Linked DNA regions of Homo sapiens. The protein of the gene in region 2 interacts with the protein of the main gene of each other region in a pairwise test. Each region holds a gene or a part of one and is shown on either strand. Other genes may lie near its edges.

Region 1 (3,500 bases), on a different chromosome or scaffold from region 2:
GAGAGGGGAAGGTACTAGGAGGAAAAGACCACTTTTTAAATGCAATTTTGGTCCTCACTATAACCCTGCCAGGGTCCATGTCTCTTTTCCCATTTCACAGATGTGGAGACTAAGGCCCAACTTAGAAGAGAGCCGGCTGTGAATGAACCAGGTACTGCTCTGAGTGGATTTGCCTGAGTAATTTACGTGGATTAACCTAAGTAACCCTGTCACAGCCACTTTACAGATGTCACCTGGGGAAAGATGGGGCTTCTCAAGAACCAATGTTTGGGGTTCTGCAAAGAGGGCAGGAGAGGCACTCCTGAAGGCCCTGCGGGGCCAGGCCTCCCTTGCTCCACACTGGCCTTGGACTGGCCCCTCCCTCTACCAGGAAGCCTCCCTGATGGCTGGGCAAGGCCTATTAGACTCCTGCTTTCCTTGGGAAAGGGCTATTTTTGATTCCAATCAGCCTCCCAGAGTGTCCCTTGAGGCTGCTGGCCTCCCTCCAAGACTTAGGCCCAGAAGGCCGCCCAACCCCCAGACAGAGGTCTCAGAAATCAAGCTGGGCAGCATCTTCATGACAAGGGGAAACTGAGGTCCAAAGAGGGGCAAGGCATCACCCGAATCAATGCCCTCTCCCAAGAGATAGGTGCTCTGACCTTGTCCATTTTACAGATGGAGAAACTACTATTCCAGAGGCTCTCCCGGCTAACAACCAGCAAAGCTGGGATGTGAACTCAGTCAGGCTGGCTCCACACGCTGCTTCATAACTTCCCCCTCGTGCCAGGGCTGAGCAGCACCACCTGTCCCCCAGGAGACGCCGCCATAGCATCCCTGACAGCTGTCACCAGCCTACGACTGCATCCGTTCAGGGACAGGGAGTTTCCTGTCCTGAAGCGGCCCGTGCATTGCACACTTACTAACAGCCAGACCCACAGCTGAGCCTGTACACACATGAACCCTTTTGACTCTACCACCAACCCCATAATAACACTGGCTAATATCTCCATTTTGTGCATTTTATCCATTTTACCCATAAAGGTGGGTAACTTACCCAAGAACCCTTGAAGGCTGAGGACCTCAGTGGGAAAAGCAAGAGATATGTGGGTCCACAGTGGGGTAGGAAATTTGCCTCTTCAAAGGCAGAGTCCCTCTCTCTCAAGTAAACTCCATAACAGCTGTGCTTCCAAGGGTTTGAGCACTGTTGTGGTCCTATCATTCACCTGTCCATCTAGCATTTATTAAATACCTTTTGTGTACCCAGCCTTGGGTTAGGTCCTGGGGTTACGAGTATGACATAGTCCTGCTCCTCAGAAGTTTCCAGACTTTCTAGGGAGACAGGCCTCTAGCAGGTAGTCCAAGGAGTAGACTTTCTCAAGGTCCTGTCAAGGTTAAACCCTTCTCCTCCCTCTGCGTGTACCCTCCATGCAGCAGGCAAAGAGGCTGGTATGGTGCCCAGGGCACAGATATAGGCCAGGGGGTGCTGGGCAGCTGGGAGGATAGCTGGCTGCAGCTGGATGAGGACAGATCTGCTCCAAACCCATGTGTGTGTCAGTTGCTTGGGTCAGTGTTCCTGGAATTGCCAGAAAGAGCATTGGATTTGAGGTTGGAAGATCAGGCTTCAAATCCCAGCTTTCTATATGTCTCTCCTCCTATAAACCCTTCCCCTCCCGCTCTAAACCTTACCTGCCTCATCTGTAGAATGGGACCAATAACGTATGCGCATCAGGGTCCTTTTGGAAGGAGAGGGGCTGTAGAGGAATTAAGTTAATTCAGTGAAAATCTTCCTACCTTCCAGGGCTGTGTGAGGTAATGACATGGATAATTGGCCAATGTAAAGTCTCTGAGTGGTGTCAACCCATGGGAGAGGCTTGGGAAGGGCCTGGTAAGTCTGGAATTAGCTTCGGGATTGGTGATTCTGGGTGACCATTACCTGGCTGCCTTCGCCTCCAGGAAGGCACATGGTCAGGGAAGGGCCACTGCAGCCATGTGCTGTCTATGAGTCTCTGGCCCATACCAGGCTGCAGGGCCAGCAGCTGCCTGGAGATGATGAGGGGTCCCCACGAAATAATCATGTTACCCCTTACAAGCTGCCTACACATCTTAGCTCACATATGCTTCTACAGCATAGCGAAGTAGCTTATCTCCTTCCCATTTTTATTAATAAAGGAACTGAGGCCCAGAAAAGGGGAAGTGACCTGCCCCAGGTCATATAGCTAGTAAGTTGCAGAATTGAAAGTAGACTTAGGGGTCCTGACCTCCAGACTCAAGATCCCTCCACTCCCCCCGGGTTTTCTGTTCCCCCATGGCCAATACTAACCTCTTTTTGTCGACACGGCCATAGGGGATCCCCAGGGACAGAGAATTTGAGGTTTAATAGCACAGAGCCAAACCAAACGTCTCGCTGAGTTGCAGACTCTTTAGAACTGAAAAATCTGCGGAAAACTTCCAGCCCCAAATCGTCCTTTTGCAATGAGGAAACTGAGGCCCAGAGTAGGACAGGGACTTAGCTGAGGTCACAAAGCACTTTGGCCTTAGCAGGGCAATTATAGCTCAGCCTATGACTCTTAGTGCAGTGCTCTTCCCCCTTGTGCCCTGGCTTTGAGCAGACACCTTTAGATGGTGGCACCAGGATGCCAGGCCAGGTCCTGGGCACCAGCACTTCCTGCTAGTTCAGCACCATGTGCACTGAGCCCCTACCTTGCACCAGGCGGTGGGGTATGTAAAGCCAGACCAGCTTTAGAGAAGAGAAGGGTGTCATACCTCACTGGGCAGAGCCCCTTCCCCCCGCCACTGAAGGCAGACCTGGGCCAACTCAGACCTGGCAGGGACCCCAGCCTCAGAGAAGCAACAAAGGAGTGGGAAGCCAGGCCTGGGCCAGCTGGAGATGGGGGCTCCACCCAGCTGCACAGGTACCTCCTGCCAGTACAAGGGCCAGAGGACAGGCTCTAGTCTACCCTGCCATTTAACAGATGGAAAAACTGAGGACACAAGAGAGGAAGAGAGGCGCTCATGGCTGACTTGGGACAGAAACCCAAGTCCCTTGGTTCCCTGTCCTGGGCTCCTTTCACAATAAATAAAACTGCTGCTACTGCTGTAAATAACAGCACTCCAAGCATCGGGCATAAAATGATTGTGAGGTCATGACCCTTCCCCTCCTCTAGTGTGGACCACAGACTGGCCACCTGACATATTAATCTCATTGAGCAGGGGTTCTCAACTCTGGCCACACACTAACATCACCAGAGAAGCCTCTAGCATTGCATTCCCTGGGTCCCAGCCCTGAGGCTTTGAGTTCATTGATTCAGGGCTGAACCAGGTCCTTGACATGTTTTCAAGACTCTCAGCCAGGCCTGAGAGACATTCGTTAAGATGATTTGACTGCCTATAAGAGAAAACCCAACTAACATTGGCTAAACCACAAGAATCTTCAGTACCTAACAAGTAGGCTAGGGTGGGCGGACCCAGCATTGGTTCAGCAGTTCTGCAACATAATGAAGGACCCAGAAAAACTATTATTC
Region 2 (5,075 bases):
TTGTTCATTGAAACCGTAACCATAGCAGGAGTAATTAAGTCTATGGGAAATACATTTATTCATTGAACGAGAATTTAGTATTTCCTAATTCTAACTAGATAATGATGAACTAGGCAGACAGCTCCTGCCCTTGTATAATTTACATTTTTGTTGGGAAGAGAGACAATAAACATAAACAGTGAAATACATACTGTAAGTCAAGTTGTGATAGGTACTATGAATAAAAACAACCAGGGTAAAAGAGAGAGTGCTCGGTGCTCTTATTATTATTATTATTTTTATTTTTATTTTTGAGACGGGGTCTCACTCTCTTGCCCAGGCTGGAGTGCAGTGGCACGATCTTGGCTCACTGCAACCTCCACCTCCTGGGTTCAAGCAATTCTCCTTCCTCAGCCTCCCGAGTAGTTGGGATTACCGGTGACCACCACCATGCTCGGCTGATTTTTGCATTTTTAGTAGAGATGGGGTTTCACCATGTTGGCCAGGCTAGTGTTGAACTCCTGACCTTAAGTGATCCTCCCACCTCAGCCTCCCAAAGTGCTGGGATTACAGGCATGAGCCATCACAGCTGGCTTATTTTTGATAAGATAGTGAGGGAATGCCTCTGAGGAGATAATAGTTGAGGTAAAACCAGAATGAAGCAAGGGAGCAAGTCATGTACATATTTAGAAGAGTTCCTTGTAGAGGGAACAGCCAGTGTGAAAGCACAGAGTCAGGATCATGCTTGGCAAGGAATATGGATGTGATACGAAGATTTGAATATCATCGGTGAATGTGGTTAAGGTGCATAACCAGAGAATTCTTTTTAATATGTCTAGTTAAACATAAATGAGAACCTTATTAAGAACTTGTCAATTTTTCATTGGGTTGATAGAAATTGCCCTCTTGAAACGTATATCTAAGAGGGACATGGGCCTTAGAGCGGCCTTCCCCTCCTTCAGTGTACTGTCCTAGAGAGATGGTTGCATTCGACACAGCCTAGGGAGGAAACAAATTTCAAGGGTGTCTGTGTTGGTCATGGGTAGGAATGGGAGAGGGAATAGTGGACTAATCAGTAACTGTAAAACTTTGTGATACATGTAAATGGTAGAATCTTTCATGTTCTATGAAAATAAATGATTGAACAATTACCATAATCTGGAGGTGATGTATGTTAATTAAAACTTCTAAAAGGAAGTGGCAGCTCAGGGTAAATTTTGATCAGTCATTTTTCAGTAGATTAGAGGAGGGGAATTTTAGACTGCTGGAAGGTAGAAAGAGGATACTAGGCATCTTTCTAGTAAAAAGAGAGGTTTTGTTTTTGTTTTTGTTTGTTTTGAGAGGAGGTCTCACTCTCACACAAGCTGCAGTGCAGTGGCATGATCATGGCTCACTGCAGTCTTGATCTCCCAGGATCAAGCGATCCTCCCACTTTAGCCTCCTGAGTGGCTGAGACTACAGGCACATACCACCCTAGGTCTGGCTAATTTTTTATAGAGATGGGATCTCACCATATTGCCCAGACTGGTCTCCACTCCTGAGCTCCAGTGATCTTCCTGCGTAGGCCTCCCAAAGTGCTGGGATTACAGGAATGAGCAAAAGAGCTAGTCAGCCAGAGAGGTTTTTCTTTTCTCTTCTCTTCTCTTCTCGTCTTCTCTTCTCTTCTCTTTTCTTTTCTGTTGAGACAGGGTCTCACTCTGTCCCCCAGTCTGGAGTACAGTGGCGCAGTCACAGCTCCCTACAGCCTTGACCTCCTCAGGCTCAGGTAATCCTCCCACCTCATCCTCCCACAGGTGCAACACCAGCATTCCCAGCTCATTTAAAAAAATGTTTAGAGACAGGGTTTTGCCATGTTGTCCAGGCTAGTCTGGAATTCCTGGGCTCAAGCAATCTGCCCTGTCCTTCCAAAGTGCTGGGATTACTGGCGTGAGCTACCACCCCTACTTGAGGTTTCTCTTAATAAATATTTTGCTTAGTGTCCTGGTGAACCCAGTTGTCAGTAAGAGCCATTTGCCTCCTGCCTTGGTTAGTAGGTGGAGGAAATAGATGCCTCATATGCTCTGTAAGGAAAGCAGGGCTGGGTGCAGTAACTCACACCTGTAATCCCAGTGATTTGGGAGGCCAAGGTGAGAGTATTGCTTGAGGCCAGGAGTTTGATACCAGCCTGGGCAACCCCATTTGTACAAAAACAAACAAAAAAAAACAAACAAAAAGCAGGATACAGCTCAGGTTAAAACTTTGGTCAGAGGCTGGATGCAGTGGCTCATGCCCAACACTTTGGAAAGCAGAGGCAGGAGGATCATTTGAGGCCAGGAGTTGGAGACTAGATTGGGCAGCATAGCAAGACCTACCACCTCTACAAAAATAAAAATTAGAAAACATTGGTCAAATCCATGGAGTACATACAAATAATATCAAAGGTAATTGATCTGTGTAGCTGTGGTTTGTTCATTCCATAAAAATCTGAGCATTTATGCTGTACTGGATACCATTTTAAATTTCAGGCTGGGCACAGTGGCTCACACCTGTAATCCAAGCACTTTGGGAGATTGAGGTGGGTGGATTACCTGAGCCCAGGAATTTTAGCCCACCCTGAACAGCATGGTGAAACTCGTCTCTACAAAAAATAAAAAATAAATACCTGGGGGTGGTGGTGTACGGTTTTAGTTCTAGCTACTCAGGAAGCTGAGTTGGGAGGCTTGCTTGAGCCCAGGAGGTTGAGGCTGCAGTGAATTGAGATCGCACCACTGCACTCCAGACTGGGCGACAAAGCAAGACCCTGTCTCAAAAAAAAAAAAAAAAAAAAAGTATCAGTGATACAATAGTGAATATGACAAAGTTCTTAGACTTTGGGGCTTATATCCTGATGGATGAATACTGACACTAAAGACATAAAGAATACACTTGCATAGTTTTTACTGGTAATTAGGGCGGTAGCGAAAACAACGTGATAAGAATGTTCAAGGCCGGATGCGGAGGCTCACGCCTGTAATTGCAGCACTTTGAGAAGCCCAGGTGGGAAGATCGCTTGAGCCCAGGAGTTCAAGACCAGTCTGGGCAACATAGTAAGACCTCATCTCTACAAAAAATTTAATAATTATCCAGGCATGTTAGTGCATGCCTGTAATCTCAGCTACATGGGAGGCTGAGGCAGGAGGATTGCTTGAGCACAGATCAAGGCTGCAGTGAGCAATGTTTATGCTGCTGCACTCTAGCCTGGACGACAGAGTGAGACCCTGTCTCAAAAAAAAAAAGTGTTCGGAAGGTGGAGCCACTATTTTACTCACTTATTTACAACAGAAAATAATTTTTCCCCAAAAAACTGCTTTTGACTATTTTTTGTTGAATGTTCTTTTTCTTCCTCATGTTGACATTTCAGCCAGATCCTATAGCTTTCCTGGGCTTTTCTTAAAAGTCTGGTTATTCCAAATTAAAATTTCAGTCTCATAGCCAATCAGAGTGTCTCTTGTACCATCTCAAGACTTTGTCTCTGGATGTGCAGAGAGGAATGGAGGAAGGGCATTTTTCTTAGGTTGGTTTGGGAGGCCTGAGGTGGCATTGGAGCTGAGACCTGAATGATCTGCATTCTAAGGCAAAGGTCTTGAGGTGCAGTGATGAGCTTGGCCTGTTTGAGGAACACCTTTAAAAGGTTGCTGTGGCTGGAACATAGAATTGCAGTAGTAAGAATTACTGGTATTCAAATATATACAATCAGCCCTCAGTATTCATGAGTTCCATGTCTGTGGATTCAACCAACCAAAGATTAAAAATACTCAGAAAAGGCTGGGGGTGATGGCGCATGCCTATAATCCCAGCACTTTGGGAGGCTGAGGCAGGCGGATCATGTGAGGTCAGGAGTTCAAGACCATCCTGGCCAACATGGTGAAACCCCATCTCTACTAAAAAAAAAAAAATACAAAAATTAGCTGAGTGTGGTGGCACATGCCAGTAGTCCCAGCTACGCAGGAGGCTGAGGCAGGAGAATCACTTGAACCCACGAGGCAGAGGTTGCAGGGAGCCGAGATCACGCCATTGCACTCCAGCCTGGGTGACGGAGTGAGACTGTGTCTTAAAAAAAAAAGAGAGAGAGAAACATCACATATATGCACTTAATGTGGCACCCGCACACATTTATTTTTATTAAGCCACCTCACTTTTGTTGAGATAAGAAAGATTTTATGAATCCCCTATAGATGCAAGTAGTGTACTTGCAATGTAACAATGGTTATGAGCTCAGCCTCTGCAGCCACACTGCTTGGGTTGGCCTCCAGGTTCTGCCATTTGCTAGCTGTGTGGTATTGGGCAAGTTACTTAACATCTCTGTGCCTCAGTTTCTATATCTATAAATAGCAGTGATCTCAAAAAAACCTCAGAAAAAAATTGCGTCTGTATTGAATATGTACAGACCTTTTTTTCTTATAATTCCCTAAACAGTACAGTATAGCAGCTGTTAGCATTTACATTATAGTAGGTATTGTAAGTAATTTAGAGATGGTTTAAAGTGTATGGGAGGATGTGCATGGGTAATAAGCAAATGCTATGCCATTTTCTATCAAGGACTTGAACATGTATGGGTTTTGGTATCCCGATGGGTGGGGGTGGGGGTGGGGTGGGGTGGATCCTGGAATCATTTCCCCACAGATACCAAGGGACAACTGTACAGTAGTTTGATTCTTTTGGTTAGTGGGGATTGGCAAATGGGGTTTTAAAATCACATAACTGGGAGCAATAGTGGCTTCATAAACAGTAAGGGAACCCACACATTCAAATAACTAACCTCATAATTCACATGAATTATCTAAAATACGACAACTGAGTTCCTTTGGTAAAGTTATTAGAGTGCCATTAATTGGATATACAGTCATTTACTGCATATTGATGTTTTGGTCAACAACGGATCACATATATAATGGTGGTCTTATAGGATTATAATGGGAGCTAAAAAATTCCTATTGTCTGGCAATGTTTATTGTAGCCCTTGTAACGTAGTAGTGCAATAACACATCACTCGTGTCTGTGGCGATGCTGGTGTACATAAAACTATTGTGCTGTCACTCTTATAAAAGTCTAGCACATATAATTGTATACAGTACATA

The links.
Region 1: the proteins of CUL5 (region 2) and ASB2 interact in binary tests that used the Homo sapiens proteins (3 or more experiments, as listed by UniProt).

The regions. Positions count from the first base shown.
Region 1 is NC_000014.9:93,966,571-93,970,070, reverse strand, and holds part of ASB2 (ankyrin repeat and SOCS box protein 2), read left to right. Parts: intron 1-100; exon of another isoform or gene 101-151; intron 152-3,500. UniProt on the Homo sapiens protein: Substrate-recognition component of a SCF-like ECS (Elongin-Cullin-SOCS-box protein) E3 ubiquitin-protein ligase complex which mediates the ubiquitination and subsequent proteasomal degradation of target proteins.
Region 2 is NC_000011.10:108,014,625-108,019,699, forward strand, and holds part of CUL5 (cullin-5), read left to right. Parts: intron 1-5,075. UniProt on the Homo sapiens protein: Core component of multiple cullin-5-RING E3 ubiquitin-protein ligase complexes (ECS complexes, also named CRL5 complexes), which mediate the ubiquitination and subsequent proteasomal degradation of target proteins.